Linked DNA regions of Homo sapiens. Changing the gene in region 4 together with the main gene of any one other region gives a genetic interaction. Each region holds a gene or a part of one and is shown on either strand. Other genes may lie near its edges. The genes, in order: NUBP1, LTN1, TIMELESS and POLE.

Region 1 (7,511 bases), on a different chromosome or scaffold from region 4:
TGGTAGAGACAGGGTTTCACCATGTCGGCGAGGCTGGTCTTGAACTCCTGACCTCAGGTGATCCACCTGCCTCGGCCTCCCAAAGTGCTGGGATTACAGGCGTGAGCTACCACACCCGACCAGGGTTCTACAGCTTTTAAGGAGAGAAAAACTCACAGCAGATATTTATAATTACGTAATGGAAACTGGTATTTCTATTAGCTCTTTTCAACCAGTGAAGAAAGAGGCACTGGATGGTTAAAAATAATATACTGTGAAGTCCAGCAGGCTGAGACTGGCAGGACAGGGAGCAGATAAAGCCAAGAGCCACAACGCTCGTGGAAGAATGTGAGAGACAAAAAAAGGCAGAGTGGCAAACCGTTTTTCTTGGGTCCCCTCCAGATAACAGCATCATCAGGACTGCTGAGCAGGAAGCCCACTGACATCACCCCCAGGTTGTCTTCCACGTACTGCAGAGGGAACAGGGTGAGGGCAAGACACGCTTTACTCAAAACCACACAGTGAGGCCCTCCCCCAGGTCTTCTGTTTGAGCTCTGACTGAAAAAAACATTTTCAGGACAAAACTACCATGTGACCTATGAGCATATTCACTCTTTGCTCCTAAATCATTTTTGGAAAAAAAAAAAAGGGTACCATGTTGGGGGATTTGAAAGAGGCACTGTATGTCCATGGGCTGCAGTGACGGCAATGACAGGGAACTCAGCTAAAATAAGTAAATGTCATCTCCTTAACTCTTTTATTTTTTTATTTTTCATTTTTTTGAGATGAAGTCTGGCTCTGTTGCCCAGGCTGGAGTGCATGGTGCAATCTCAGCTTGCTGCAGCCTCTGCCTCCCGGGTTCAAGCAATTCTCCTGCCTCAGCCTCCCGAGTAGCCAGTGTTACAGGCGCGTGCCACCATGCTCGGCTAATTTTTGTATCTTTAGTAGAGATGGGATTTCGCCATGTTGGCCAGGCTGGTCTCGAACTCCTGGCCTCAAGTGATCTGCCTGGCTTGGCCTCCTAAAGTGCTGGGATCACAGGTGTGAGCCACTGCACCCTGCCTCCTTAACTCTCTTAACCAGAGATTTACAAACTATGGACTTCAGGGCCAAATCTGGCCCACCATCTGTGTTTGTAAATAAACTTTTATTGGAATACTGTCCTGGTTGTTCAGTTACATATTACTACTTTTGTGCTACAACAGCAAGGAATGTAGGCCCACATGCTGAAAATCTTTACCGTCCCACACTTTACAGAAAAAGCCTGCCAATCACTGGTTTTAATCACATCCTCTGTGCCTCGAAAAGTACCCTAATAAATACCTATGGACCAACAAACCACAAACCCATTATGTACACACAACCACACACTACTGTGAAAATAGGGCAAAGAGGTGAAAACTCACCACTGGAGACCAGCCTGAGCCACTCTGGTGAACCTGTGTGAACATGAGCACCGATGTTCATTAGTAGAAATCATGTACCCTGGTCACATTTCATGCACAGACAAATTGTACAAAGTAAGACGATGGTTTTTTAAAATATAATTCATTGTCTTACATGGTACCACGAAATTCCTAAAAGGAGGTGAACAGCTAGGGCGTGGGTAATAAAGATGCAACTCAACTCCCTTTGTGCCCTAAGCTGGGTTATTTGGAAACTCTACTTGGATGTCTAGATAGGGAACCAAAGTTACTCAAGTTCAAATATGATGTTGTGTCTAAGGTATCTTAAAAGAGTCATAAAAATCGGCTGGGGACTGATGAGAAAATGCAGATACCTGTGGAGCAATGAGGTGGCTTTTGTAAAAGCACAGGAGTGAAGGGAATGAGCTCTCACGAAACAGCTGATTCAGAACCTGTCCCCAATCAGCTCCAGCCACAAAGGGGAGCTTCCTGGGGCAACAAGATTCAGACCTCTTCCCCCCAGCAGGTGTCCAGCAGCACACAAAGCGCACACTGAAAGTTTAATTTTCTTGATGAAGCCTTACTTTTCTCAACAGATTTACTGAGACATGATTCATAGACAATATGACTCACCCATTGAATGAGTGGCTTTCTGTACAGTCACAAGCATGCAGCCATCACCACAGTTTTATTTTTTATTTTTATTTTTGAGATGGGGTCTTGCCCTGTCGACCAGGCTGGAGTGCAGTGGCGTGATCCTGACTCACTGCAACCTCCACCTCCCAGGTTCAAGTGATTCTCCTGCCTTAGCCTCCCAGGTAGCTGAGATTATAGGTGCCCGCCACCATGCCCAGCTAATTTTTGTATTTTTTGTAGAGACGGGGTTTCACCATGTTGGCCAGCCTGGTCTCAAACTCCTGACCTCAAGTGATCCACCCGCCTTGGCCTCCCAAAGTGTTGGGATTGCAGGTGTGAGCCACTGTACCCAGTCACCACAATTTTAGAACATTTGCCTGACTCTTAAGAAGAATCCCTATACCCCTCAGCTGTCACCACCCCCCACAGTCTGTCTCACATCCTCCCAGCCTTACAGGACCCCTAATCCACTTTCTCTCACTGTGGACTGACCTATTCTGCACATTTCATGTAAGTGGAATCACACAACATGCGGTCCTCTGTGACTGACTTCGAAGTTCTATTAAAAGACACCCAGCCAGGCACAGTGGCTCACACCTGTAATCCAAACACTGCGGGAGGCTGAGGCGGGAGGATCACCTGAGGTCAGGAGTTCGAGACCAGCCTGGTCAACATGGTGAAACCCCAACTCTACTAAAAATACAAAAAATAGCTGGACGTGGTGGCGTGTGTCTGTAATGCCAGCTATTCAGGAGGCTGAGGCAGGAGAACTGCTTGAGCCCGGGAGGCGGAGGTTGTGGTGAGCCGAGATCGCGACACTGCACTCCAGCCTGGGCAACAAGAGTGAAACTCTGTCTCAATAAAATAAATAAAATAAAATAAAATAAAATAAAATAAAATAAACCCCACAAAACCATTCATTCCTATTTACACTCGTTTGCTAAGTCCATTTGTCTTAAAAGAGGGGTAAACAGGATGATCCAATAGTGCAGGAGAAGAAAATAGGGAAACTTCTATTTTCTTTTATTTTAAAATTTTCTGTTTCATGAAATAATTACGTGTGATGACAGTAGCTTATACCTTCACTGTGGCGTGTGCTACCAAATCCATTGGGGTATGTGACCAAGCCTCACAGGGTGACATCGCTCTCCTTCCCTACTCCCTCGGAAGCAAACCCCAAGGCCTTAGAAGTGCCTGCAAGGCCGGCCCCATCTGCTTCGGGCCACCCTCCAGCCCCTCTGGTCACTCCACTGAGGACACAAGGACACCTTGTGTCAGCGGCCCATGCAGTTGCTCCCTTAGCCCAGAATGCCCTTCCCCCAGCTCTCCCCTCCTGTCATCCTCTGCTCAAATGCTATCCCTCAGTGAGGGCACCTTTGACCACCCCTCAGCCCCTCTGACTCTGCCCTACTGTCCATCCCCTCACTCTGGGTTGGTTTCACATTATCTAGCATCTGCCTTCTCCCACCCAGACAGGGGTCTTCATGGACCTTGTTCACCACTGCATCCCCAAAACAGGATTAATGCATTCCTGGCACTAATTAAAGAAAGAACCAATCTTGAGACTCTCGGGACATCCCAGCACCCCCAGCCCCAGCTTCCATGCACTGCCCTTGGGGGAATCCTCTCTTGGAGAGCTTCTTGCTAGCAAGAAGAGGCCAGCAACTACATAGACTGCTACAGCCCTGCCCCCAGCCCACATCGCTCACCCGCCCTGCAGTCTCAGTTCCCCAGGGGAGACCACAAGGGCAGAAATATTCCCTTGCTTCCAGGGTACAGACCCATAGCAAGCCCTGGTCTAATGTTCCCAGTCAGAGCTAAATTTCCGTGTCTTACTTCTGCATTTCACTGGCTGTTTCCCTTCCCCTCTGAGGAGGCATCGAAACCAATGCTTCTCCAATGGTGTAGACAGACTTCATATACAATCCCGCCCCTCCCCCGCCAAGACTCACAGTTGTTGTTAAAAGTAGACAGATGGACTACTGAGCATGTATGAGCTCCTCATGTCCACATAAACATTTACAGGCCAGGTGCGGTGGCTCACGCCTGTAATCCTAGCACTTTGGGAGGCTGAGGCAGGTGATCACTAGAGGTCAGGAGGTGGAGCCCAGCTTGGCCAACGTAGTGAAACCTGGTCTCTACCAAAAATACAAAAATTAGTTGGGCATGATGGCACACCACTGTAGTCCCAGCTACTCAGGAGGCTGAGCACAAGAATCGCTTGAACCCAGGAGGTGGAGGTTGCAGTGAGCTGAGGTTGCACCACTGCACTCCAGCCCGGGCGACAAGAGTGAGACCTTGTCTCAAAAACAACAAAACAAAACAACAACAAAAAAACATTTATGGGCTCCGCATGCCTCTTTGTTGAGGTTTGACAGTTCAGTGCTACAGAGTTTGCCTTAAGAGAATAATTTCCTGAGTTCTGTAACCGGCTATTACCTGCTCTCCTTCCAATCCCATTATCTTGGGAATCGATGGCCCACATATATCGATGTCTAGAAGAGCAATCTGGGGACAAGAAGAGACCAAAGCGGTTATATAACTGAATGCACACACTCCAGACACACACAACTAGGAGGGGAGCGGGGTTAGAGGAAAAGGACAGGGGAGAAGACAGAAACTGGGTTAAACTTGGAGCCATCAGATTCTCCTGAGGGAGAGTCCTAACGCTGATCTCAAGGTTCATAAACACTGATGCCCCCATTCCCCTACCCCTCAGCCTGGCTGAGCTCCTCAAGGGTGATCTTACAGACCTGGCTGTCAGGTCACTTGGAGGCTCGGGCTCAGACCTTGTTTACTGAGCCCTGGTTGGAGGAGACGGGGAAAGGGACCTAGCGCCTGTTTGGCTTGTGTGACAGAATGGATGGAACAGCCAAGAGACGGCAGTGTTGGAGCCACCCTAAACAGCTCTCTTTTGCTCACCCCTCACCAAGCCTTGGTCTCTGCATCTTAAATTTTTCTCAAACTCATCCTATCTTGTTCAGGAGTCTCAGATACAAGCCAAATCTAGACTATTTAAGCAGAATATGAATGTATTAAAAAATATTGGGGGCTGGGTGCAGTGGCTCACGCCTGTAATCCCAACACTTTGGGAGGCTGAGGCGGCCATGTGCCTAGAAGGTAAGTATCATTATCTCTGGTTTACAGAGGAGGAAACTGAGGTTCAGAGGGGACCAGTTCAATAAGCAGGGAACAGAGCTGGGACATAAACTGAGGTCTTTCGGCCCCAACTGGGGCTCTTTCCAGTACACCACGGGCCTGCTGTGGAGGACCAGAGTGGAGCCTCTAGCTGAACCCTGACCAAGCCCTGTTTTCCTTTGATCCTGAAGGTGAATGATGGTTTAGGCTAAACTTACAGAACAGAAACTTAAAGTAAGATGGAAACCTGGAAAAGCTCTTTAGTTGTGACTCAGGTGCAGCTTCAGGCGACCCCATTCCACCCCAAGCCTTCCCCTCTGATACAGGAGGTCTGAGACGGCCTTCAGGAACCTTCTGAGAACAGGGCTAGTATTCATCTTGAAAGCTGCAATGACTCGGATCCAAAGTGCTGCACCTCCGCGTCACTTTTTAACTTGCCCTGAATTAGTTTCTTGCCACCCTCTTCAATCCTCTCAACAAACCCAGCCTCCTACTTCCTCAGCACCCAGCGCTGTCTCAAACTTGTGCACGGGAAAACGCCATCCACAGACCAGCACTGGCCTCAGGTGCCCTCTATGGAGCCATCCGGGGAGAACAGCAGAGCGACATCATCGGAAAACCTGACTTGCTCTCTCCGGACCTTGATACTTGGGACTGATGTGTCAATGATCCACGGGGAAATGACACTATCACTATGACTGTGATAGAGACTTTCCTCGATACTCTCAGGTTTCTAGTGACTCTGTCTCCATGCCCTTCCTTTAGGGAACAATTTAATCAATTCCCTTTAGAGGAATTTCACTCCCTTGGGGAGTGAATCTTGAGCGAAATGATGTAAGGATATGAGAAGCAGATCCAGCGCACTCTCTCACTCCCGTGGCAGGCCCGAGAGGCTGTTGACAAGCTCCTGCTACCCAGATGGCCAGGACGGCCCTGGGTCCTGTCTGTTCAGACTTCCTGTTGATCTTATTACTACCCCAAAATCTGTCCATTTAATTTTGCTTAGGTTAGGCCAGAAAAGCAAAGCTGAGAGCAATGCGCCTGCGTTCCTCCCAGCAGGACCTCTGGGCCTGTGTTTGCAGCTGATGGGAAGAGGCCGCGTTTGCTGCAGAAGGTGGAGATGCTGCAAGGCTGTCGGGACCCAAAGCGTCTCCTTTACTCAGCACCCCAAACTGCCCCTGATGAGGAGGGTAGGGGAAGAGGGATTTAGTCCTAACTTTTAGTCCTTGCACAAGTTGCTTCTGCTTTCGAAGCCTTGGCTGTCTGGGCTTCTGATCTGTGAGACAACTGCTCCGGGGTCATCAAGGCCCCTCTCAGCTCTGCAGTCCCAGGACCCAGAGGAGGGCCTCGCACACTCAGTCCTGAAACACCTAGTGCTGACCTTGTTATGACAGTTTGCCTTTCAGATCACAAAGATCATAAATGTTTAATTTATGGTGGCTGGGTGTGGTGGCTTACGCCTATAATTTCAGAACTTTGGGAGGTTGAGGCAGGCGGATCACCTGAGGTCAGGAGTTCGAGACTAGCCTGGCAAACATAGTGAAACCCTGTCTCTACTAAAAATACAAAAATTAGCTGGGTGTGGTGGCACACGCCTGTAATCCCAGGTACTCCAGAGGCTGAGGCAGAACTGCTTGAGCCCGGGAGGTGGAGGTTGCAGTGAGCTGAGATCACACCACTGCACTCCAGCCTGGGCAAAAGAATGAGACTCCGTCTCAAAAAAACAAACAAAAAAAGTTTAATTTATGGAAGTTGGTGACTTGTTATTTATTCATTGTTTTTGAGGTAGAGTCTCACTCTGTTGCCCAGGCTGGAGTGCAGTGGCATAATCACGGCTCACTGCAGCCTTGACTTCCCAGGCTCAAGTGATCCTCCTACCTCAGTCTCCTGAGTAGCTGGGACTACAGGTGCTTACCACCACACCTGGCTAACTTTTTTTATGTTTTATGTTTTGTAGAGACAGGGGTCTCACTTTGAAGCCCAGGCTGGGAGTCGGTGACTTTTGCAGTGGAAGACAGTGTATGACTCTTGGCTGTCTCATGGCTCAGGCTTATGCTACAGAGGCTCCTTCTGCCTTCACCACAACTTACACACTCCCTGGGCAGCCTGTGACTCGTCAGGGGTGTTTTCTAATTCTGCTCTCTCTTGATCCAAGGCCCTTTGTGCCAATGAGATGACAGGCGCCTGCCTGCCTCAAGCGCTAACATGGAATGGTCTTGCACAGAGTTAGAGCCAAGCTTCCACCAGATGGCAGGCAGAAAAAGGTCAGGGCATGTCCCACCACCCTGCTGGATTTAGGGCAGGGAGAAATCTGTGCTGCTTGACTTTAATCAAGACATATTCAGCATTTTC
Region 2 (7,511 bases), on a different chromosome or scaffold from region 4:
TATACAGGAAGATGTGCATAGGTTAGATGCAGATACTATATGCCATTTTATATAAGGAACTTGAGTATTCGCTGGGGTGGGGGTCATGGGAGGGAGCCTGGAAACAATCCCCAGCAGATATCAAGGGATGACTATATACTAAAAACACCAAACTGTGTATGCTAAGTGGGTAAATTTTATGGTATGTGCAATATCTCAGTAAAGCTTTATAAAACAGACACAAAAACATACACATGTACATATACAACTTTTTCCAGTTCAATCTGATTTGCTAGTTTTTTTGAGAAAAAAGTTAACCCATGATTTAGGAACATTTAAAGTTTTCCGAAGAAAAATTCTGTTTATTTCAGGATTCATCTAATTAGTATTACTTAGTGGGTTATTCTGGTTTATCTGCCCACAGCTCAGTTCAAGTTTCAGACTCAATAATAATAAATGCTGCCGTATAATTTTGCACCCTAACCCAATCCCAGCTTAATGAAAAAGGTGACACATGGCCATTTTCCTAATTTCTGAATATAAAATGAGAACAAAACTCTTATACACAAATGCCTCAATCTGCTGCTATTTTTTAAAGATCAACAATATTTTAAGAAATTGATGTAAAAGCCAAATAAGGAGCTCTTGAAATATATCATCAGCAAATAAAACTAGCTTAAGTCACAAAAATAAGTGACAGGCCTAAAGAGAAAACTAATCTATTTAACAGCTAGATCAATGCTGCTTCTGTGATTTGACTTTTCCCCACAGATATACAAATGCAAAGATGCAAAAATTGATATCTTTGTACCAGGGTATAGGGTATGAGCAACAACATAAATTATAATTTAAAAATTCCAAAAAGTCACATTGGAAATGAATGCCATGAATACTTAATCACACTAAATGATAAACTAAATCTTTTTGTATTGACCTGTCAAAAGAAGGCACATATTTTATTAGGCTAATTCAATCAAAGATTGACAGAGATTTGGATCTTCCTTGTTCTTTTTGAGACAGGGTCTGGCTCTGTCGCCCAGGCTTGAGTGCAGTGGCATGATCTCAGCTCACTGCAACCTCCACTTCCCCGGCTCAAACTATCTTCAAGTGGGGATCCTTCTAACAGAAAAACTAGAGAGATCTTTCCAGTTTCTTCTTGGACAAGGTCTTACTTCCTAAACATGAGACAACAGAGACATCTAGTGGCTGCTAGAATAATTTGGACAAAATATTTCAGATATTTTCACCACTTAGGTAACAGTTTGAATTATTACATAGGTAATGTTTCACAGATCTCTCTCCAAACAGTGATTTTCAAGTAAGGTAAATTTCCAATGATGTATTAAGTTATATCTCCACAACAGAGTGACAAACTGACTCCCTCCGAAAAAAAAACAAAAAACACAAGATCCAATTCTTTTGAAATCATTACTATGATAGTACAAAATTAAATTATATAAATATTATTTCCTGAAATAAAAGAACCTGGTGACTACATTCAGTTAGAAAAAAGTTGATCTGGCCACCTATCAGAGTAATTACTTTTGCTTGGAAGGTAAGGTATAAGGGACAGGAGTAAACTTATTAAGCAGATGGAAGTTAGTTGGATAAAATGAGATTAGGCTGGGCGCAGTGGCTCATGCCTGTAATCCCAGCATTTTGGGAGGCCAAGGTGGGTGGATCGCTTGAGCTCAGGAGTTTGAGACCAGTCTGGGCAACACGGTGAAACCCCATCTCTACAAAAATATAAAAATTAGCCAGGCATGGTGGCTTGCACCTGTAGTCCCAGCTACTTAGTGAGAAGATCGGTTGAGCCTAGGAGGCAGAGGTTGCAGTGAGCCGAGATTGTGCCACTGCATTCCAGCACAGGCAACAGAGTGAGACCCTGTCTCAAATAAACAAAATAAAATAAATTTTAAAAGATGAGATTAAAACATAAGGATTTTCCTTTTATTAAACTGAAAGGAAGGTATTTAGAACAGTATCAGAAGCATATTAGGACAGAACTATCGAAAGTTGTCACATATTTATTTACCTGTGATGATGCAGCTTTGAAGAAAGTTAGTATTAATTTCCAAGTGAGAAGGTATCCCAGAACATAACAGAAGTCTTCACTCAGTGGTTTAATAGTAACTATCTGTCCAACAGGAATACACCCCAAAACATTTTCTAGTAAGTCCTCTTGAATGCTAAGAAGAGACATCAGTGCTGCTGGTGGTGACCTAAGAATCAATGATTAAACACCACAAGTTTTCTTTATAATTCATTCCTTAACAAATTGACAGTACTTGTAAACTTCAAGCATTTTAGAAAAATTTCTCTGTTTTCCAAAAAACGTTTTAAAAATTCCCCTCTATTGAGCCAATTTTAACTCCTAATCTCACATAACAGTAAAATAAAAAAGACATATTATAGCACTTGAAGGAAAGACATTTTTAGAAAACGTCTCTTTCAATTTTCTAAGTGAAAAAAAATCACACACCCAGAGAAGCCAAATGATGAGTCCAACGTCTTTCAGTTAGTAGGGGAAACTGTTAGGGATTCTAAATCCTACCCGGCCTTTTATCATCTTATAAAAGACAAAGTGAAGATTAAGACTTCGAACTTTGTCACTTCATTCTAGTTTCTATTTTATTGCATATTATCTACTTAGTACTATTAAGAAATATCACAATGATACTATTAATCGGATAAACACAGAAAATAATTATGTGCCTGTTTAAAAAATCATGATTGTAATCTTTTTAGGAAAATAAATGTACCATTCAGATTAATTCACAACAATGTAAGTTAATTTTCTTCTTTATTGAACTACTCTACTCATTTATACTTTCAGGTGAACTTATGAGATTCTCAAAAAGTAAAATACTTAACTCTCTTCTCCATGATACTCTAGCCTGGTTCTCTCCTTTCACTTCTGTGATCGTTCTTCCCTTGTGGCTTCCTTCTCCCAGCCCACAAGTACAGGCCTTCTCCAAACTTCTGCTCTTAGGTCTTTTCCTTCAACACCTCCATCTCATGTACCCAGCCTTCTATATTCCATACTGATAGTCACTAGATCTTATAAAATACCAGCTCCAAAATCTCTCCACTTTTCACATTGCCCTCCATGCATTGTTATTTAACTTCTGCAATCAGCTCCACCTCTGCTTGCTTCTTTTTACAATTCATGTTTCACATTAGTGTCAGAATCGGCTGGTGGCGCCCTATCTCCTACCAAGTAATGACCAAATCCCCCCAAAAAAGTCATTTTTAAGGCCATTTATTATAGGCCAGGAAGCATTCTGGCCTACAGCATTCTAGCCTATTTCTCTCTCAGAAATAAGAGAGAGAAATTCCTGCCCTCACAGAACTTACATTCCAGTAAAGAAAGATATTATCAATAAAACTATACATTAAGTGGTAACTACTCAATATTCCCCAAGCACATCCTCACATTCATGACTCAGTGCCTTTGTACATGATGTTCTCTTAACTTATGTTGTCTTTCCTGTCCTGCAGAAATGCTACCTAACCTTAAAGGTCCAGTTTAAATGCCTCTTCCTCAAAAGAAAGTCTTCCCTTCCTGATGTACATTAATTGTGCCCTCATACATGCTATCTTATATAGGCCTAACTGACCTTTAAAAAAAAGTTATCTATCCTTTTTCTTAGCACTTATCATATACTATATTTTCCATAACGCTACAGTATCATCTGTATCAGATAAATTCCTTAAGGAAAAGAAAGTGCTCACTAAACACTGCATATTCCCCTCAGCATTTAATTAATACTCTGCACAAAGTGGATGCTCAATAGATACTTGAACCGATACACTCTTTCCACAGCCACCATATGGCCAAAGATAGTTTTACTGAACAGTAGCAAACGGAAAATGTGATTTAAGAACAATTAAGAGAGTGACACAATCTTTTGGGTGAAATCTATATTTCATTTATATCTTACAGATAACTAAAAAGATCTATCTGTAGAATGAATATAACTCTATAGCTTCTGTGCTGCTTCAGTCCTCTAAAGACATTATAAGTGAGATGGATTATAAGAATTTAATAAAACAAATTATTTAAAAAAACCTTACAAGGCTGGCTCTTCTTCTTCATCTCCGTATGACTTTAGATTATCCTGATCATACTGTGGTAATTCAGGCATCAATCTAGAAATTAGAACATTATTTTTAAATATGTGATATTAAACTGTTTATTAAGTCGTGCTCAAGAGCAGAAAGACCAATACTTATTTTATAATGAGTAAATGTTTTAATGAGTTTTCTTTAAAATAACTACTATAGCCAGGACTATTGAAATATAAATTGTGTATAGAGAACAATAACCTAAAAGATGAGGCAACTTAGGGTCCCTATAAGTGAAGCAGTCAGATCTCCTTCTTTTAAAAATTTTACTTTAAATAATTAAAAGTAAAAACTAAGCATATATTCTATTTTTTTAGACCACTGTAACATTGATTCAATTGGATGAATTCTTACTTGTATAGCATATGATAAACAGCAATTTGCACAGGCCTAGCTCTGAAGAGGAGTAATGGGGCCAATGTATTTAACAAAGTCTGGAGATATTCTGGTAAGTTTGTTTTTTGGTCAGCAACTAATCTTGCAGGAAGTTTGTGACTCAATAGCTGTTCCTTTGAGATATACGTTAATGTTTCACACATGGGTTTCAGCATTGCATTCTGAAAGGATGTTTCAGACACATCTTTGTTTTCTCCTAATGACAAAAAGGAAAGAAACATGCACGTCTCAAAAGAAAGTTAGTATAGCTTAAATGATTCACAAACAATCAAATGTCATTTAAGAAAATGAAATAAAAACTAGACATAAACAATAAAGCAGTCTTAACTAGAAACATGAACTGAATATATATTCCAGTTAATCTCAACTGTTTTAATGACTTTTATCTGATCCAGCAAATGTTCAATAGCAAGGTTCTATTCACATCATCCATTCATGTTATCTGAAGTATTATTATTTTAATTTGCAACAGTCATTGGATACCTTGCCATTTTTCAATTTCTGTCTGTAAAGTAAAGCATAGATGATGCTTCTGAGAAGCCAAGCTTTCTCTTCTGGCTTTTTCTTTTACTATTTAGTATTATTTGATTTAAACATCAAAATTTTTGCTTTTGAATTTTTCAGTAAGTCATTTCCAATGAATCAATCTCACTATTATTCCCTTTTTCACTTGCCTGTAACAGTCACCAAAATAGGTAAAAGCAAACTGTGGATGCCTTGGGAAAAAAATTCTTTCCATTCACTGATTAGATTTACAGGAAGATTGCCAATGGTATCCAGAGTTGTGGAATCAAAGAAAGCACTGAGGTCACAGGCCAAATCACAGCTGACACAGGCAAACAGTTGCACAAGTGGAATAGAATACAATGCCTGATTCTCACTTGTTGTCTGAAAAAACAATAAAAATGAAATAGGTAAACAGACTTCTACCAGAACACTACAAATAAAGCCAATATAAAGAAAAGCCCCACTTTCATTTCTTTGAATTTTAAAACGAAAAGCAGTTGAGGTGTGTAATCTCAGGAGAAACATAAAATTTTACATCAAAATAACTTTTTTCTTCAAAATTAAATACCATGAATAGAATCATTAATAAACAATTTATTCTCAAGTACCCTTTTTAATTTCTAACCCATGGAAGGAAACACTAAGTCAGACACATTAAATACACATTTATAATCTTCTCAGTAGCCCTACAAGTTGTAAGTTATTATTTTAAAATAAGAAAATCGGCCAGGCACAGTGGCTCATGCCTGTAATCCCAACACTTTGGGAGGCTGAGGCAAGTGGATCACATGAGGGCAGGAGTTTGAGACCAGCCTGGCCAAAATGGTGAAACCGCATCTCTACCAAAAATATAAAAATTAGTCGTGCATGCTGGTGGGCATCTGTAATCCTGCTATTTGAGAGGCTGAGGCACAAGAATTGCTTGAACCCAGAAGGCGGAGGTTGCAGTGAGCCAAGATCGCACCATTGCACTCCAGCCTAAGCAACAGAGCGAGATTCTATCTCAAATTTAAAAAAAAAGAAAGAAAGAAAGAAAGAAAACTGAGTCTCAAATAGTTTAAGTTTAAAACTCTAAGTCACATAGCTAATAGCAGGCAAAGCAGAGATTCAGACCAATCCAACCCTGACTGACTTGCTGCCTTGGAGCCCACAAGTAATATACCTCTGGTTGCTTTGGGTCAAAAATTACACTAATTCCCTCTGAATCTGCTACTATTTAATGCATTACTCTCACAATATTCACACAGTATGTTTTAGAAATAATCTAATTATAACCAAAAAAGACCAAAATAATTGTCATTAACAGATAAAACCTGAAAGGGCTGTGCTGCAAATATTACAATAAGCTAATGGAGAAGGCATTTTAATAACAGGAGATTTGGTCACTGAATGATGCTGGTAGTCATTAAAAATCTATCATTTTACTATTCTGTCAAATAGTAGCTGGTAAGAAGAACATCTATAAAGTGTTTTAAATTATACAAAGGAACCAATTACAATCATCACTTAAAGAATGAGATTAGTAAATAGTTCTGATGCAAAAGTATGTACAAAAACCCACAAGAGGTGATGACATATCGGGTTAATTTACCTCCAACCAAGCCAACATGGAGCACATGATGAAGTCCCACTCACTCTCTGCCAAAGGGGATGAGCAGTATTTCAGAAATAGGGAAAGAAACCGGATTATTTCTATATTTACACCCAGTACCTCTGGACTTGCTTCTGATAGATTACTGTGATAAAGATAAAAACAAAAGACAATAAAAGATTATATTGACATTCAATTAGAAAGTATGCTACTTTAAATCTTACATACTTATTTATAACTGACTTAAATGTCTACCATAATTTCTCTACAAAATTGTGACACAGATACGTAATCTTTGTCTGAATTGTATACTGAAGGAAAAACATAGTATAAAGTATCACCTACCAACTGAAAAGAAAAATATCTTCATGCTCTTTCTTCCAGGATATTATGATTTTTAATATTCCATGTAATAGCTCTCCATCATCTATACTTTTGGTTTGCAGACAAGAATTGAAAATGGCAAGATGTCCAAAACCTCCTAAAGTAAAATTCAAAATGAAAATTAAAAATATTTAAGAACTATATCGCTACTATTAAAAAAAAGTCCACTTTGAGAAGTAAAAGACTTTCTTGAGAAGTGTTCAGGTTAAGAACTCTAATAATGACTTTTATCTAAGAGTCAACAAATGAGCTTATAAGCTCCAAAGGGCAGAGACCCTGTCTCCAAACCCAGCACCTAGCACACAATAGAGAATTTGGGGGAGGAGAAAGAGTGAATGATGCTGTAATTTAAACTGACTTATGCTGTTTTTGTTTTGGTTTCTTAAGTGCAGGACATATTCAGCAAACTCATCATTCAAATAAAAAAAACCCTACAGCTACAGAGTAGCTGGAAACAGCAAATGGAAAATAGAACATACTGTTTCATAATTTATACATTCATTCACTCAATAGCAGCTAGTACATG
Region 3 (6,575 bases), about 76 Mb from region 4:
TACAAAGTTTAGAGGGGGCCAAGGTGGCAGGGGGCTGGTGTGTCAGCACCGCCAGGAGGGTGTGCACACATGGCCAGGTCACAACAGTGCTGGGCTTGGCCTCAACTTTGCTCTAAAAACAGAGTGGGAAGAGGCTAGGCAGTGGGAGCATGCACTTCTGAGTCTGCGGGGGCAGTGAGGCTTCGTAGGCCCCTAAGAGCATAGGGATGCCTGGATCCACAGCTGTGGCTGTGCTGCTGTAGCTGCACCCAGGAGGGTGGGGACCCGCCAACTTGAAAGGGGGCGGGGCTCCTGCCTGTTCCTGGCTCTCCCTGGTTCTGTGGAGCATGCAGCCCTCACCACACCTCCCCAGCCGCAGCTGGCGTCTTTGCAGTGACCACTCCAGATGGGCTGCCACTGCCAGGAGTAGGTTCCCACTCCTGGCAAAAACTGGAACACATTGTGCTCAGGATATTCCTGCCCCTGCTCACAGTACTCAGTGGGAAAGACACATCTGGCTTTTCCTGGGTCTGATTGAAGCCCGTCTTAACACCTGCAGAACAGAGGCCATGGTATCACCTGGCATGCTCCTCCTTATGCCACTGAAATTCCAGAATCCTTGGAGCTGGTGTGTATGGGACTATGTGGCTTTCACACATCCCACCCTGTATAGCCAAATCTTCAGGGCCTGGCATCAAGTTTAGGAGTCAGCCTGCTCCAGGGCTTTCCTTAGTGCCGGGCCTACTAGATCCTGGGTAGAGAGGACATATGGAAGACACCAGGCAGGAACTTTGGAAGCCAGGTCTGGCAGAACCAGGGCTCTGCAAATACGAAGCAAGGGACATCAGGGCCTTAGTTTGGGTTCCATATGAAATGGCAGCCAGAGTGTGTGCAACATGTAGCAGTAAATGATCAGCTGAAGTGGGAGTTAGAAAACAGACCGTTTCACTCACCCATTACCTCCAGGCTTGTGTTCATTTTAGGTTAAAGCCCAGTTACATAGGAAATGGTACCGCACTGATCTTATTTGACTTCTCCTATTCCCTGGTCACCAGGGCCTTCCTCTGCTTCACTTTCTACTTAAATATTTGAGAGCACCAAATTACCAGAGGGTAGTCAGTGAGAGGTGGGCTTTCCCAGGTAGGTTATTCCAGTCCCAGTTCTCTGTCTCATGAGAGGGGACAGTTGCTTGTCTCTAAGGTCAGTAAGGGCACAATTTTGGCAAACATTTGCCTATTTGCCCTGTGGTGTTCTGCTCAGATCTCCCTTCAAGAGAACACAGAGTGAACATTCTATTTGGCCGACAGCTTCCACTCTTTAGAATGTTCTGCAGTGATCACAGCAGCATCCCTCTCTACAGGCTGCTCTGAGACAATGACAGGTGGACAGTGCTAGAGCCCAGCCAAGTCGGCCAGACATGGGACTCCTCAGTCATGTAATCTTCATTCTGGGGCTCTGTATCAACTTGGCCAAGATTTTCTGAGTAGCACTGTAATTTTTCTCTTTCTCCCTTTCATACATGTGTGACTGTCATCGTGATCTATAGGTTCTCCCAATCTATACCTGAATTGATATGTACTGACTAATCAGAGCTTGTTTAGGTGTCAGAAATGCCGCAAAAGCAGTATCTACCTCTTGCTCCCACATTCCCAGCTTAATCCAAGAGACCCAGAATAAGGAGAAATCAGACGGCTGTGATTCAAATATGTAAGAAATAGCTTTTTACTCCTCTTCTCATTTAAAAATTTCCAAAGGGTAAATAAACGGAAAAGGACAAAAATACCTCTTGTGCCTAATAAATAGTAAATTTTCTTTTTTTTTTTTCTTTTTTTGAGACGGAGTCTCGCTCTGTCACCCAGGCTGGAGTGCAGTGGTGCGATCTCAGCTCACTGCAACCTCTGCCTCTTGGGTTCACGCCATTCTCCTGCCTCAGTCTCCTGAGTAGCTGGGCTACAGGTGCCCGCCACCATGCCTGGCTATTTTTTATATTTTTAGTAGAGATGGGGTTTCACCGTGTTAGCCAGTGTCTCGATCTCCTGACCTTGTCATTCTCCCATCTCGGCCTCCCAAAGTGCTGGGATTACAGGTGTGAGCCACCATGCCCGGCCAATACATAGTAAATTTTCTATACTGATAAACACTGCTAGAAGAAACTGGAGCTGGAAATTTCAAAGAGGGATGGAAAGTCAGGGTCCAGTTCTGGACATTTCTTAGAAAGGCAGCCACGGCCGGATGCGGTGGCTCATGCCTGTAATCACGCCACCGGCTCATGCGGTGGCTCAAGCACTTTGGGAGGCTGAGGTGGGAGGATCATTTGAGGTCAGGAGTTCCAGACCAGCCTGGTCAACATGATGAACCCCCATCTTTACTAAAAATACAAAAATTAGCCAGGTGTGGTGGTGCATGCTTGTAATCCCAGCTACTCAGGAGGCTGAGGCAGGAGAATTGTTTGAACCCAGGAGCCAGAGGTTGCAGTGAACTGATACTGCGCCACTGCACTCCAGCCCGGGTGACAGAGTGAGATTCCATCACAAAAAAGAAAAAAAAAAAAAAAAAAGGCAGCTGCTAGGCCGAGCACGGTGGCTCACGCTTGTAATCCCAGCACTTTGGGAGGCCAAGGCAGGCGGATCACCTTCGGTCAGGAGTTCAAGACCAGCCTGGCCAACGTGGTGAAATCCTGTCTCTACTAAAAATACAAAAAATTTGCGGGGCGTGGTGGCTCGTACCTGTAATTTCAGCTACTTGGGAAGCCGAGGCAAGAGAATCACTTGAACCTGGCAGGCAGAGGCTGCAGCGAGCCGAGATCATGCTGCCACACTCCAGCCTGGGTGACAGAGCGAGACTTCGTCTCCAAAAAAAAAAAAAAAAAAAAAGGCAGATACTGGGGACAGCAGGACACAGCAAAGGAGCAGCACAGCCCGGATCATGGAGGGAAAACAGAGCAGCCCTGCTGGAAGGAAGCAGTGCTCAGGTTGCGAAGTGAAGAAAAGCTCAGGATGAAGAGACACCAAGACTGGCCAGAGCTAGAAAGTGTCTAGCCCTTGGAAACTTCAATTACCATGGAAATAGCTTCACTCCCACTTTTAGAGGCTATGGGAGATCCTCATCTTTTCAGGAAAAAATAAAAATGAAAAGTCAAAGCAACAGGGCAATCCAAATCCATCCTTTACTTAGAAGCCTTCCTGAGCTGAATGGCTATTTTCTCAATCTCACCTTTGCCCTACCTCGGCTGGAAGCACAGGAAGCAAGAAAGCTGACGTTTCCAAGAATGGGTAAGAACATAATATTTGCAGTATTTATCCATCCTTTTCATGCCTAGATTTTGTCCTTTTCTATGCCCCATGCCAACAAGCTGGCTTCTCTTCCTTTATGGCTCCTCCTTCTTCCTGCCGCATACTCTTGTCACCCTAAGAATTTACCCTAGACAAAAGGATCTAGAGGCAAAAATGCTTTTCTGTGTCTTCTGTAGGGAAAGCGGAAGAAAAGGGAAGGTTGTTGGTCTTTTTTTTTTTTCTTTTTTTTTGAGACAGAGTCTTGCTCTGTCGCCCAGGCATATGCACTGGCGTGACCTTAGCTCACTGCAACCTCTGCCTCCTGGGTTCAGGCAATTCTCCTGCCTCAGCCACCCGAGTGGCTGGGATTACAGGCGCATGCCACCATGGCCGGCTAATTTTTGTATTTTTAGTGGAGATGGGATTTCGCCATATTGTCCAGGCCGGTCTCAAACTCCTGACCTCAGGTGATCCGCCCGCCTCAGCCTCCCAAAGTGCTAGGACAACAGGTTTGAGCCACTGTGCCGGTCTGTTGGTCTCTTTTTACCCTAAAATTGTTAAGTTCTTCTTTCAAGAGCACAGCAGGGGAAGGGCTGGGGAACTTAGACATATCGCCAAGTCAGACTGAGATGAGAACTTCTAATCTTACATGTTTAATACCAAACACAAAGCAAACACATTCATCATCTAGAGTACTATATTCCAACCCTATCTCAAATGCAGGAATGGGCCTCTATCTGGTATCTAGAGGATGATCATAGGAAACAAAATGAGGACAGAGGCATCTGGTATCTTCTAAAAGTGGTACAAAACTCCCGCCTGTCATGTCATAAAGCTCCCCATCTGGTGCTGCGACCCACCTCCAAGAGAAAGCCAAAGGAACAGACCAATAAAAGGGGTCCGGGGTGCTTTCTCTATTTCACTCACTCCTCTTATTTGCTAAGGAGCTCCAATAACCAAAAGAAATGGTTCCTAGAAGAAGAGAACTAAATCTCCAGAGAGCTGCTGGGGCATACCGATAAAAACTGGGAGAAACAAAGACTGACAGCAGAGAAGTCCAATACTGCTGCTGAAGTTTCTCAGCCTAAATCCGTGAAAGAGCCTGGGATTCTACTGCTCTGTCCAGTAAGAGGAGCTTCTGGGTCCTGTATGACCCTTCCAACTCTGACTTGAATGCACCATCTAAAAACGTGTCTATCTCTACCCCTAGGCTTCTTAGCTCTTCAGTCATCCTCATCATCCTCAATCTGGTATCGTTTCTTCTTTTGGATTCCTGGAGCTCCCAACTCTGGTGCTGTGGGAACGATGGGGGTGAGAGAGAGAGAGAATATCTAAATATGTTAAGGGGTAAGGACGTGGTAGAGTTTGTCTTCAGGATTAGAGAAGAAAAAGAAGGTCCCATCAAATTCCCTACCTCTGTTCCTGCCCTCATCTTCTTCCTGTTCCTCGTCGCTGTCCAGCAATTGTCGTTTCTTGGGTGCTGCCTTCAGCGGCTCTTTACCAACAGCGTCTTCCTCTGCAATGACCATAAATGACACAAAATTAGGAACTCGGTCCTCATATTCTCAGAACACCTTTCCTGCCCTCTAGACCAACATGGCTGACACGTTAATACTCAGAAGATGGCTGTCGCACTATTACCCTCTGGGGATGCCAGGCCCGCTTTCTTCTTGTGGGCTAGCAAGAGGGCCCTCAGGGCTTGTGCTCGGTGCTCTTTACAGTGCTCCTCATCAGAGCCTTGCTCTCCAGGGACTTTAGGCTGCAGCTCTGGCTGCAGCTTCTGTTCCTCCTCTGGTTGACTCAAAGAAGCTGCTGCCCTCCGGAGCTGGGTAGGACTCAGCTTGGCTGGAATTCGCCAGAAGGTTTCCTACAGGGGCCAAAAAGTTGAAAAGGGAAAGGACCAGCTTTTTGTTTCCCAGAGTATGATATTCATTGAATATATATGACCCAATATTGGTGAAGATCCACAAGGGTTGTGAACTCTATTTATTATAATACTTACTATCTAATATATACCCAGTGCCTAGCACAGTGCCTGCTACATTAGGAGGTTCCCAGTTATAGGTTTTTTTGGTTGTTCTTTTTTTTTTTTTTTTTTTAAATGAGAAGGGGTCTGCCTCTGTCACTCAGGCTGAAGTGCAGTGGCACAATCATGGTCCACTGTAGTCTCGATCTCTTGGGATCAAGCTATCCTCCTGCCTCAGCCTCTCAAGTAGCCAGGACCACAGGGGTGCATGCCACCATGATGCCCAACTACTTAAAATTTTTTGTAGAGACAGGGTCTTGCTGTGTTGCCCAGGCCAGTCTCAAACGATCCTCCCACCTCAGCCTCCCAAAGTGCTGGGATTACAGGCATGAGCCACTACACCTGGCTATAGTTGTCAATTGAATAAATAAATAAATAAATAAATCCTGGGGATGTAAAGGTGAATCAGGTATGATCCTTGCTATCAAATAACTCACAATCCAATGGGAAAAAGAACAAATGTACTGTAGTATCACAGGATTTTTTTTTTTTTCTTTTTGAGGCAGAGTCTCACTCTGTTGCCCAGGCTAGAGTGCCGTGGCAAAGCAATAAAGGCTCACCCTCCTGGGTTCAAGCAATTCTCCTGCCTCAGCCTCCCAAGTAGGTGGGACTACAGGTGCCTACCACCACACCGGGCTAATTTTTGTATTTTTAGTAGAGACAGGGTTTTGCCATGTTGGCCAGGCTGGTCTTGAACTCCTGACCTCAGGTGATCCGCCTGCCTCAGCCTCCCAAAGTGCTGGGGTTACAGGCGTGAGCCACCATACCCAGCAGATTCCACAGGATTAAGGCTGCATCAGGGGCATGAACAAATCACAGCTGCAAAAGTGATTATTTTTACTTCAGGGGTTGAAAGAATGACAAGGACTGCTTCTCTGACAAGGTGACAATTGAGCAGACTCTTGAAGACTGGGTAGAGGTCCATCAGTAAGACAGATGGAGTGTGTGTGTGTGTGTGTGTGTGTGTGTCACCCTGTGTGCACGGTTGCAGCCTTCCAATAGAGGGACTGGCATGATTAACCATTTGGAGGCATGAAAAAGCCTACCAGGGTGACTATGATGTAAAGTCGGTGTGTGAGTGGTGTGGCTGTGAGGCTGCAAAGGTTGGCCAAGGATGGGGATGCCATTTGGAGTTTGTGGATTCTGTCCTGCAAGCAGTAAGGAACCATCAATGGCTCTGGACAGAGGACTTGACCCTCCATATCCACAAGTTCTGAGTCTGTGGATTCAAACCACTGTAGATCGACAATATTAAAAAAAAATAACAATACAACATTAAACAATAATACACAGCCTGG
Region 4 (8,264 bases):
ATCCTTGTAGAGTGAGGCAGGAGAGCTAGAGTCAGGAAGGAGAAAGGGATGGGAGAGAGAGGGTAGGGGGGAGAGGAGATGCAACCCTTGGTTCTGAAGATGAAGAAGCAGCAAGGAAACAGATTCTCCCCCGGGAACCATCACAATAAATATAACCAACCAGACACTTTCATATTACGACTTCTGACTTCTAAAACCGTAAGAGAATAAATTTATATAGTCACTAAGTGATCATGTGTTACTGCAGCAATAGGAAACTGATACACCACCATACTGTATAATAAAGGTTTAATCTTTTAAATAGTTGAATGCACCCGTAATCAAAAACACAGAAAAACTATATTCCAAATCTTGCTAGAGAACAGCCTCAGTTCTGAGTCCCAGATCTTTATCAAAATCAAGAGTGAATGAAGTGCTATTTACGAGGCATCACCTCTTAACAGGGGCGCACGGCCCTCTATGCCAGTCCTCCAAATATCCTTGCCTCAAGTAAGTTGGATTAAGTAGACTAGAAAACTGCTCACTGGGACCATATTTCCTCCCAAAACTGCTTTCTCTGAGCTGTGTATCTCACTTTTAATCCAGGGACAGTAAGAAATCTGAAAAATGGGGATAAGTGTCACACAGGGAGCTACCATCGACTGGTTACTATATCACACCGTCCCAGTACTCCACACAGGCTCTCATTCACAGAGAGCTACCATTGACTGGTTACTATATCACACCGTCCCAGTACTCCACACAGGCTCTCATTCACAGAGAGCTACCATTGACTGGTTACTGTATCACACCGTCCCAGTACTCCACACAGGCTCTCATTCACAGAGAGCTACCACTGACTGGTTACTGTATCACACCGTCCCAGTACTCCACACAGGCTCTCATTCACAGAGAGCTACCATTGACTGGTTACTGTATCACACCGTCCCAGTACTCCACACAGGCTCTCATTCACAGAGAGCTACCATTGACTGGTTACTGTATCACACCGTCCCAGTACTCCACACAGGCTCTCATTCACAGAGCTACCATTGACTGGTTACTATATCACACCGTCCCAGTACTCCACACAGGCTCTCATTCACAGAGAGCTACCATTGACTGGTTACTGTATCACACCGTCCCAGTACTCCACACAGGCTCTCATTCACAGAGCTACCATTGACTGGTTACTATATCACACCGTCCCAGTACTCCACACAGGCTCTCATTCACAGAGCTACCATTGACTGGTTACTATATCACACCGTCCCAGTACTCCACACAGGCTCTCATTCACAGAGAGCTACCATTGACTGGTTACTGTATCACACCGTCCCAGTACTCCACACAGGCTCTCATTCACAGAGAGCTACCATTGACTGGTTACTGTATCACACCGTCCCAGTACTCCACACAGGCTCTCATTCACAGAGAGCTACCATTGACTGGTTACTGTATCACACCGTCCCAGTACTCCACACAGGCTCTCATTCACAGAGAGCTACCATTGACTGGTTACTGTATCACACCGTCCCAGTACTCCACACAGGCTCTCATTCACAGAGCTACCATTGACTGGTTACTATATCACACCGTCCCAGTACTCCACACAGGCTCTCATTCACAGAGAGCTACCATTGACTGGTTACTATATCACACCGTCCCAGTACTCCACACAGGCTCTCATTCACAGAGAGCTACCATTGACTGGTTACTGTATCACACCGTCCCAGTACTCCACACAGGCTCTCATTCACAGAGAGCTACCATTGACTGGTTACTGTATCACACAATCCCAGTACTCCACAGGCTCTCATTCACAGAGCTACCATTGACTGGTTACTATATCACACCGTCCCAGTACTCCACACAGGCTCTCATTCACAGAGAGCTACCATTGACTGGTTACTATATCACACCGTCCCAGTACTCCACACAGGCTTTCATTCACAGAGCTACCATTGACTGGTTACTGTATCACACCGTCCCAGTACTACACACAGGCTCTCATTCACAGAGAGCTACCATTGACTGGTTACTGTATCACACTGTCCCAGTACTCCACACAGGCTCTCATTCACAGAGAGCTACCATTGACTGGTTACTGTATCACACCGTCCCAGTACTCCACATATGCTCTCATTCAGTTTTCATGACAACCCCTACGAGGGAGGCCACTGGTGTCCCCATTTCACACAAGAAGAAACGCAGGCAAACAGCACCCACTGCCTCCTGGGGCACACTCACCTCCCAGGACTGTTTTAAGGATGAGATGAGGTAACCCACATAAAGCATGTAAGGTAAAAGCCATCACTTGTACTTATCCCAGCAGCAGCCTTCCCCCTGCCTGGAGGCCATCACTGAGCTTGGGGCAGGGCAGTGGAGTGGAGCACGTGAGTGCAGTCCTGTGTCCTGAAGCAGGGCAGTCAGTAACCGTCTCTAAGCTCCAAGTTCCAACACACCATGTAGACCCTAAGGGTACCTGCCTCTCTAGGGCTTGCCTGATATGGACAGACAGCGATGAGCACAACAGCAGTTAGGGATCCTTACCACTTGGTTTCTCCTCTGGGAAGAATTTTGTTCAGCTAAGTGTCTGTAAAAAGCTTCACGTTCTCACACGTTTTTTCTATTTTTTTTTTTTTGAGACAGAGTTTCATTCTTTGTTGCCCAGCCTGGAGTGCAATGGCGCGATCTCGGTTCACCGCAACCTCCGCCTGCCGCGTTCAAGTGATTCTCCTGCCTCAGCCTCCTGCGTAGCTGGGATTACAGGCATGCGCCACCACGCCCCGCTAATTTTGTATTTTTTTAGTGGAGACGGGATTTCTCCATGTTGGTCAGGCTGGTCTCGAACTCCTGACCTCAGGTGATCCTCCTGCCTCGGCCTCCCAAAGTGCTGGGATTACAGGTGTGAGCCACCGCGCCGGGCCTCATCCGTTTTCTGCTTATGGCAGGCCAGTCCTCCGGTCATGTTTACCGTTTGCTCTGGCCACCAAGCAGCCGCGTCTTATCCTTGCTCTATTTTTTTTGAGACTGGGTCTGGCTCCGTCGCCCAGGCTGGAGTGCGGTGGCGCGATCCCGGCTCACAGCAGCCTTGACCTGCCGGGCTCAGGTGAACCTCCGGCTCGGATTCGGGAGTATTAATAGCTGGGACCTCGGGCGCGCACCACCAGCCTGTCTAATTTTTCTTGTTTTTACAAGAGAAGGGCCGGGCGCGGAGTCTCACGTCTGTAATCCCAGCACTTTGGAAGGCCGAGGCGGGCGGATCACCTGAGGTCAGGAGTTCGAGACCAGCCTGGCCAACATGGTGAAACCCGGTCTCTACTAAAAATACAAAAACTAGCCGGGCCTGGTGGCGGGCGCCTGTAATTCCAGCTACTCGGGAGGCTGAGGCAGCGGGATCGCTTGAACCCGGGAAGCAGAGGTTGCAGTGAGCCGAGATCGCGCCACTGCACTCCAGCCTGGGCGACAGAGCGGGACTCCCTGCCCAAAAAAATAAAACAGAGGAGACGAGGTCTCTCTCTGTAGCCCAGGCTGATCTAGAACAGGATCCTGGGCTCCAGCGATCCGCCCGCCTCGGCCTCCCCCAGCGCTAGGCCCCCAGGCAGGGTCCCCGGCCCCGCCCCTCCCCGCACCCTCCCCAGCCGCGCGTCCACCCCGCAGGGCCTGGCCCGGGTCCCGCCGCTCTCATCGCCCCCGCCGCGCGGCAGGTCCCAAACGCAGCTGCGCGGAAGGCGAGGCCCGAAAAACCTCAGAAAGAGCCGAGCAGGGAAAGGCCGCGCGGCCCGCCTCGTTTCCCCGCAAAGAAGCCGCGCCCGTAGCGCCTCCGCCCGCCCCGAGCCCCTCCGTCGGCGGTCGGGGCGCGCCGCCCTACCCCAGTCAGGCGCGGCGAGTGCGGGCGGCTGCGGGAACCGGGCCTCCCTCCCGCCTCGGCGGCGCCAGCCGAGGACGGCCCCATGGCACCCTCCGGAGGGCCGGCCCGAGAGCCTCAGGAGGGCGCCCCTCACCTGCTGGCCTCGCCATCCGCGCCTGGGTCCGCGCGCCGCCGCCCGCCGCTCCTCAGAGACATGGAGCCGTTGGCTACCACCTCTGCTTCAGGGGAGAAATTTGGCGCGCTCCCACCCAGACTCGCGAGAGCCGGAAATGCCGCCGTCCATCAAGAGGCGCGCTCCGCCCCTCCCCCGCCCCCCGAGGCGCTCCAATTGGCGCCGGCGCCCGGCGGGGGAGGTGGCCGGCAGGGACCGGGGAAAAGTGTGTGGTAGGCGCGCGCGGCGCACCGTGGGGTTGGGACCGGGCGGCGCTGCGGGCCGCGGTGGGGCCGGAAATGTCAGGCGGTCCCCACTCCGCTCTCGGCGCCTCGGGCTCCGCGCCCGGCCAGCCTGAGGTGGGGTCGGTGCCCCCGGCGGCACGGCGCTGGGGAGGCGATGGCGCCGGCCGCGTCCAGGCTGCGGGCCGAAGCCGGGCTCGGGGCGCTGCCGCGGCGGGCGCTCGCCCAGTACCTGCTCTTCCTGCGGCTCTACCCGGTGCTCACCAAGGCGGCCACCAGGTGAGCGGGGGCGCGGGAATCGGACGCCGCCCCGGCCCCAGGTCGGCCGCAGCGGCGCGGGGCCTGGACGGGAGCGCCGGGCCGGGACCAGGCTGGGGGCGCGCCCGGGTCAGAACCCCCGGAGCGGGCGCCCTCCGACCCGGCGCTGAACTTCCCGCGGCGACACCCGCGTCCGCAGTCAGCGATTGTGAGGCGCCTTGCGGATCCCGCCCTCCCAGCGCGTGGAGGGCCCGCCCAGACCCGGGGGTCGGCGCTGAGGTTCCACCCAAGGACCCAACAGGGGCCCCGCGCGCCCGGGGAAGCCACGGCAAGGGGAGCGGGTCCGCAGGCGCGGGTGAAGACAGGGCGAGGGGAGCGGGTCTGCGGGGCGCGGGTGAAGACAGGGCGAGGGGAGCGGGTCTGCGGGGCGCGGGTGAAGACAGGGCGAGGGGAGCGGGTCTTGGGGGCGCGGGTGAAGACAGGGCGAGGGGAGCGGGTCTGCGGGGCGCGGGTGAAGACAGGGCCAGGGGAGCGGGTCTGCGGGGCACGGGTGAAGACAGGGCCAGGGGAGCGGGTCCTCATGGAGCGTGTGGAGACAGGGCCAAGGGAGCGAGTCTGCGGGGCGCGGGTGAAGACAGCGCCAGGGGAGCGGGTCTTGGGGGCGCGGGTAAAGACAGGGCCAGGGGAGCGGGTCCTCATGGCGCGGGTGGAGACAGGGCCAAGGGAGCGGGTCTGCGGGGCGCGGGTGAAGACAGGGCCAAGGGAGCGGGTCTGCGGGGCGCGGGTGAAGACAGGGCGAGGGGAGCGGGTCTGCGGGGCACGGGTAAAGACAGGGCCAAGGGAGCGGGTCTGCGTGGTGCGGGTGAAGACAGGGCCAGGGGAGCGGGTCTGCGGGGCACGGGTGAAGACAGGGCGAGGGGAGCGGGTCTTGGGGGCGCGGGTGAAGACAGGGCCAGGGGAGCGGGTCTGCGGGGCACGGGTGAAGACAGGGCGAGGGGAGCGGGTCTTGGGGGCGCGGGTGAAGACAGGGCCAGGGGAGCGGGTCTGCGGGGCACGGGTGAAGACAGGGCGAGGGGAGCGGGTCTTGGGGGCGCGGGTGAAGACAGGGCCAGGGGAGCGGGTCTGCGGGGCACGGGTGAAGACAGGGCCAGGGGAGCGGGTCCTCATGGAGCGTGTGGAGACAGGGCCAAGGGAGCGAGTCTGCGGGGCGCGGGTGAAGACAGCGCCAGGGGAGCGGGTCTTGGGGGCGCGGGTAAAGACAGGGCCAGGGGAGCGGGTCCTCATGGCGCGGGTGGAGACAGGGCCAAGGGAGCGGGTCTGCGGGGCGCGGGTGAAGACAGGGCCAAGGGAGCGGGTCTGCGGGGCGCGGGTGAAGACAGGGCGAGGGGAGCGGGTCTGCGGGGCACGGGTAAAGACAGGGCCAAGGGAGCGGGTCTGCGTGGTGCGGGTGAAGACAGGGCCAGGGGAGCGGGTCCACATGGAGCGTGTGGAGACAGGGCCAAGGGAGCGAGTCTGCGGGGCGCGGGTCCGCACGGCGCGGGTGGAGACACGGCCAGGGAAGGTGTTTTGAGAAGGTGACATTGAACAGGCTGTGTAAAGAAGTGGAGCAGAGGCTCTCCTGGCACAGGGAACAGCAGGGCAAAGGTCTCTGTTAGGTTTTGAAGGGAAGGCCGGCGTTAAAGAAAGGCGGAGAGAGGTGCAGCTTGGACTCAGTCCCGAGGGAGGGAAGATCTGTGTGTGGAGAAAGTGAACCCTGAGCAAGAGGCAGGAGATGTGAAGGGAATCGCCAGGGATCTGATCGAGAAGGTGTCTAGGTCCGTGCTAGGAATTTTGGATTTTATAGTCCAGAGAGCTTCTCAGAAGGCAAATACAAACCAAGGCCTGGAGGGAGCCACTGGGCCTGTTCCACCTTTTTATGGAAATTTTTATTGTGATAATTGTAGATTCACAAACAGTTACAAGACTAACATGGAGAGATTCCTTGCACACCTTCCCAGTGTCCCCCATTGGTTACATTCTGTGAAACGTAGTGCAGTATCGACCAGGGCATTGCGTGGACACAGTCCACAGATCCTATTCGGATTTCTCCATTTTTCTTGTAGCTGTATCTGTTCTGTACAGTTTTATCACATCTGTACATTCTTGTGTTCACTACCACAGTCAAAATGCAGAACAGCGTCATGATAGGGCTGTCCTGTTGCCCGTTCATAACCACACAGCTTCCCAACTCCCAAACTGCCAAATTATAGTATAACATCACAGCCAGGATGTTGACATAGATACTGGAAAGCCACTTGTCCTTACCTGTGTGTTTAAGTCCACCGTCTCCACCTTTTGATACAAGAACTATACATTGCAGCCGCTTTAACAAGAATTCCTACCCCCCGCCCATCTGCTGCATGGCCTCAGAACGGCCCTGCTAATTCACCTATGGGAAAGGGACACCCTCCTGCTGGTCACTGCTGTTTTCTGATGACCTCCCTCTCCACAGTGGCATTTTGTCAGCACTTGGGAACTTCCTGGCCCAGATGATTGAGAAGAAGCGGAAAAAAGAAAACTCTAGAAGTCTGGATGTCGGTGGGCCTCTGAGATATGCCGTTTACGGGTGAGTGCCATACAAGGGGTGGGTTTACCTTGTAGCCGCTGAGTGCAACCAAGCTGGGCACCAAAACCGAGTAGTTGGAGTACTCTTATTTGGAAATATAATTTTTTAAAAACCATTGTAGTAATCATCATGGGAAAAAACTCGAATGGTTCATATAGTTTGTATGGCATATATACGCATACGTGGTTTTTTTTGTTTTTTCTTTTTTTTTGGAGACAGAGTCTCACTCTGTCACCCAGGCTTACTGCAACCTCTGCCTCTCTGGTTCAAGTGATTCTCCTGCCTCAGCCTCTCAAATAGCTGGGATTACAGGCACACACCGCCATGCCCAGCTAATTTTTGTTATTTTTAGTAGAGATGGGGTTTCACCATGTTGGCCAGGCTGGTCTTGAACTCCTGACCTCAAGTGATCCACCTTCCTTGGCCTCCCAAAGTGCTGGGATTACAGTGCTAGGAGTACAGGCTCACATTTGTGGTTTTATCATGTTTCTTTTTAATTGGATGGGTAGGGGTGACTGTCTTAATTGGGCTGAGAGGCAAACCTGAGGACAAGTAACTCAACTTAACCTAAAGTCAGACTTCAGGATTCAAAAACCCTGAAAGCGTCCTAGACTGGGCTCATGGAAAGGGAAAACTGACTCCAATTTGACCAGTTAGTTTCTATTGTTATTTTAATTTTTTTTTTTTTTTTTTGAGACGGAATCTCACTCTGCTGCCCAGACTGGAGTGCGGTGGCGCGATCTTGGCTTACTGCAAGCTCTGCCTCCTGGGTTCACGCCATTCTCCCGACTCAGTCTCCCGAGTAGCTGGGACTACAGGCACCTGCCACCACGCCCGGCTAATTTTTTGTATTTTTAGTAGAGACGGGGTTTCACCATTCACAGGATGGTCTGGATCTCCTGACCTCGTGATCCGCCCACCTTGGCCTCCCAAAGTGCTGGGATTACAGGCGCGAGCCACAGTGCCTGGCCTCTATTGTTATTTTCATAGTGTAAACATCCAGAAAATAAATGCTTCGGTACCCTGAAAAATGTCCAGTTTCTGAACCACTTTCTGAGTTGCAAAAGCACAGTAATTCAAGAGTTTTACCAATTTAATCCACCGTGAGCTCTCGGCCAACAGTAATGTGAAGTATTTTCCAACTACAGTGATGTT

The links.
Region 1: changes in POLE (region 4) and NUBP1 together harm fitness more than expected from each alone (negative genetic interaction), as found in Homo sapiens cells (one large-scale study listed by BioGRID).
Region 2: changes in POLE (region 4) and LTN1 together harm fitness more than expected from each alone (negative genetic interaction), as found in Homo sapiens cells (one large-scale study listed by BioGRID).
Region 3: changes in POLE (region 4) and TIMELESS together harm fitness more than expected from each alone (negative genetic interaction), as found in Homo sapiens cells (one large-scale study listed by BioGRID).

The regions. Positions count from the first base shown.
Region 1 is NC_000016.10:10,749,628-10,757,138, reverse strand, and holds part of NUBP1 (cytosolic Fe-S cluster assembly factor NUBP1), read right to left. Parts: intron 4,530-7,511; coding exon 4,461-4,529; intron 1,419-4,460; coding exon 1,386-1,418; intron 450-1,385; coding exon 359-449; intron 1-358. UniProt on the Homo sapiens protein: Component of the cytosolic iron-sulfur (Fe/S) protein assembly (CIA) machinery. Required for maturation of extramitochondrial Fe-S proteins.
Region 2 is NC_000021.9:28,939,206-28,946,716, forward strand, and holds part of LTN1 (E3 ubiquitin-protein ligase listerin), read right to left. Parts: intron 7,083-7,511; coding exon 6,947-7,082; intron 6,747-6,946; coding exon 6,602-6,746; intron 5,392-6,601; coding exon 5,178-5,391; intron 4,700-5,177; coding exon 4,462-4,699; intron 4,132-4,461; coding exon 4,057-4,131; intron 2,202-4,056; coding exon 2,015-2,201; intron 1-2,014.
Region 3 is NC_000012.12:56,413,242-56,419,816, forward strand, and holds the end of TIMELESS (protein timeless homolog), read right to left. Parts: intron 5,119-6,575; coding exon 4,893-5,118; intron 4,768-4,892; coding exon 4,666-4,767; intron 4,546-4,665; coding exon 4,475-4,545; 3' UTR 3,122-4,474; downstream 1-3,121. UniProt on the Homo sapiens protein: Plays an important role in the control of DNA replication, maintenance of replication fork stability, maintenance of genome stability throughout normal DNA replication, DNA repair and in the regulation of the circadian clock.
Region 4 is NC_000012.12:132,683,268-132,691,531, forward strand, and holds the start of POLE (DNA polymerase epsilon catalytic subunit A), read right to left. Parts: upstream 4,076-8,264; 5' UTR 4,049-4,075; coding exon 3,987-4,048; intron 1-3,986. Other genes in the region: PXMP2 (peroxisomal membrane protein 2), read left to right, coding at 4,404-4,525, 6,996-7,109. UniProt on the Homo sapiens protein: Catalytic component of the DNA polymerase epsilon complex. Participates in chromosomal DNA replication.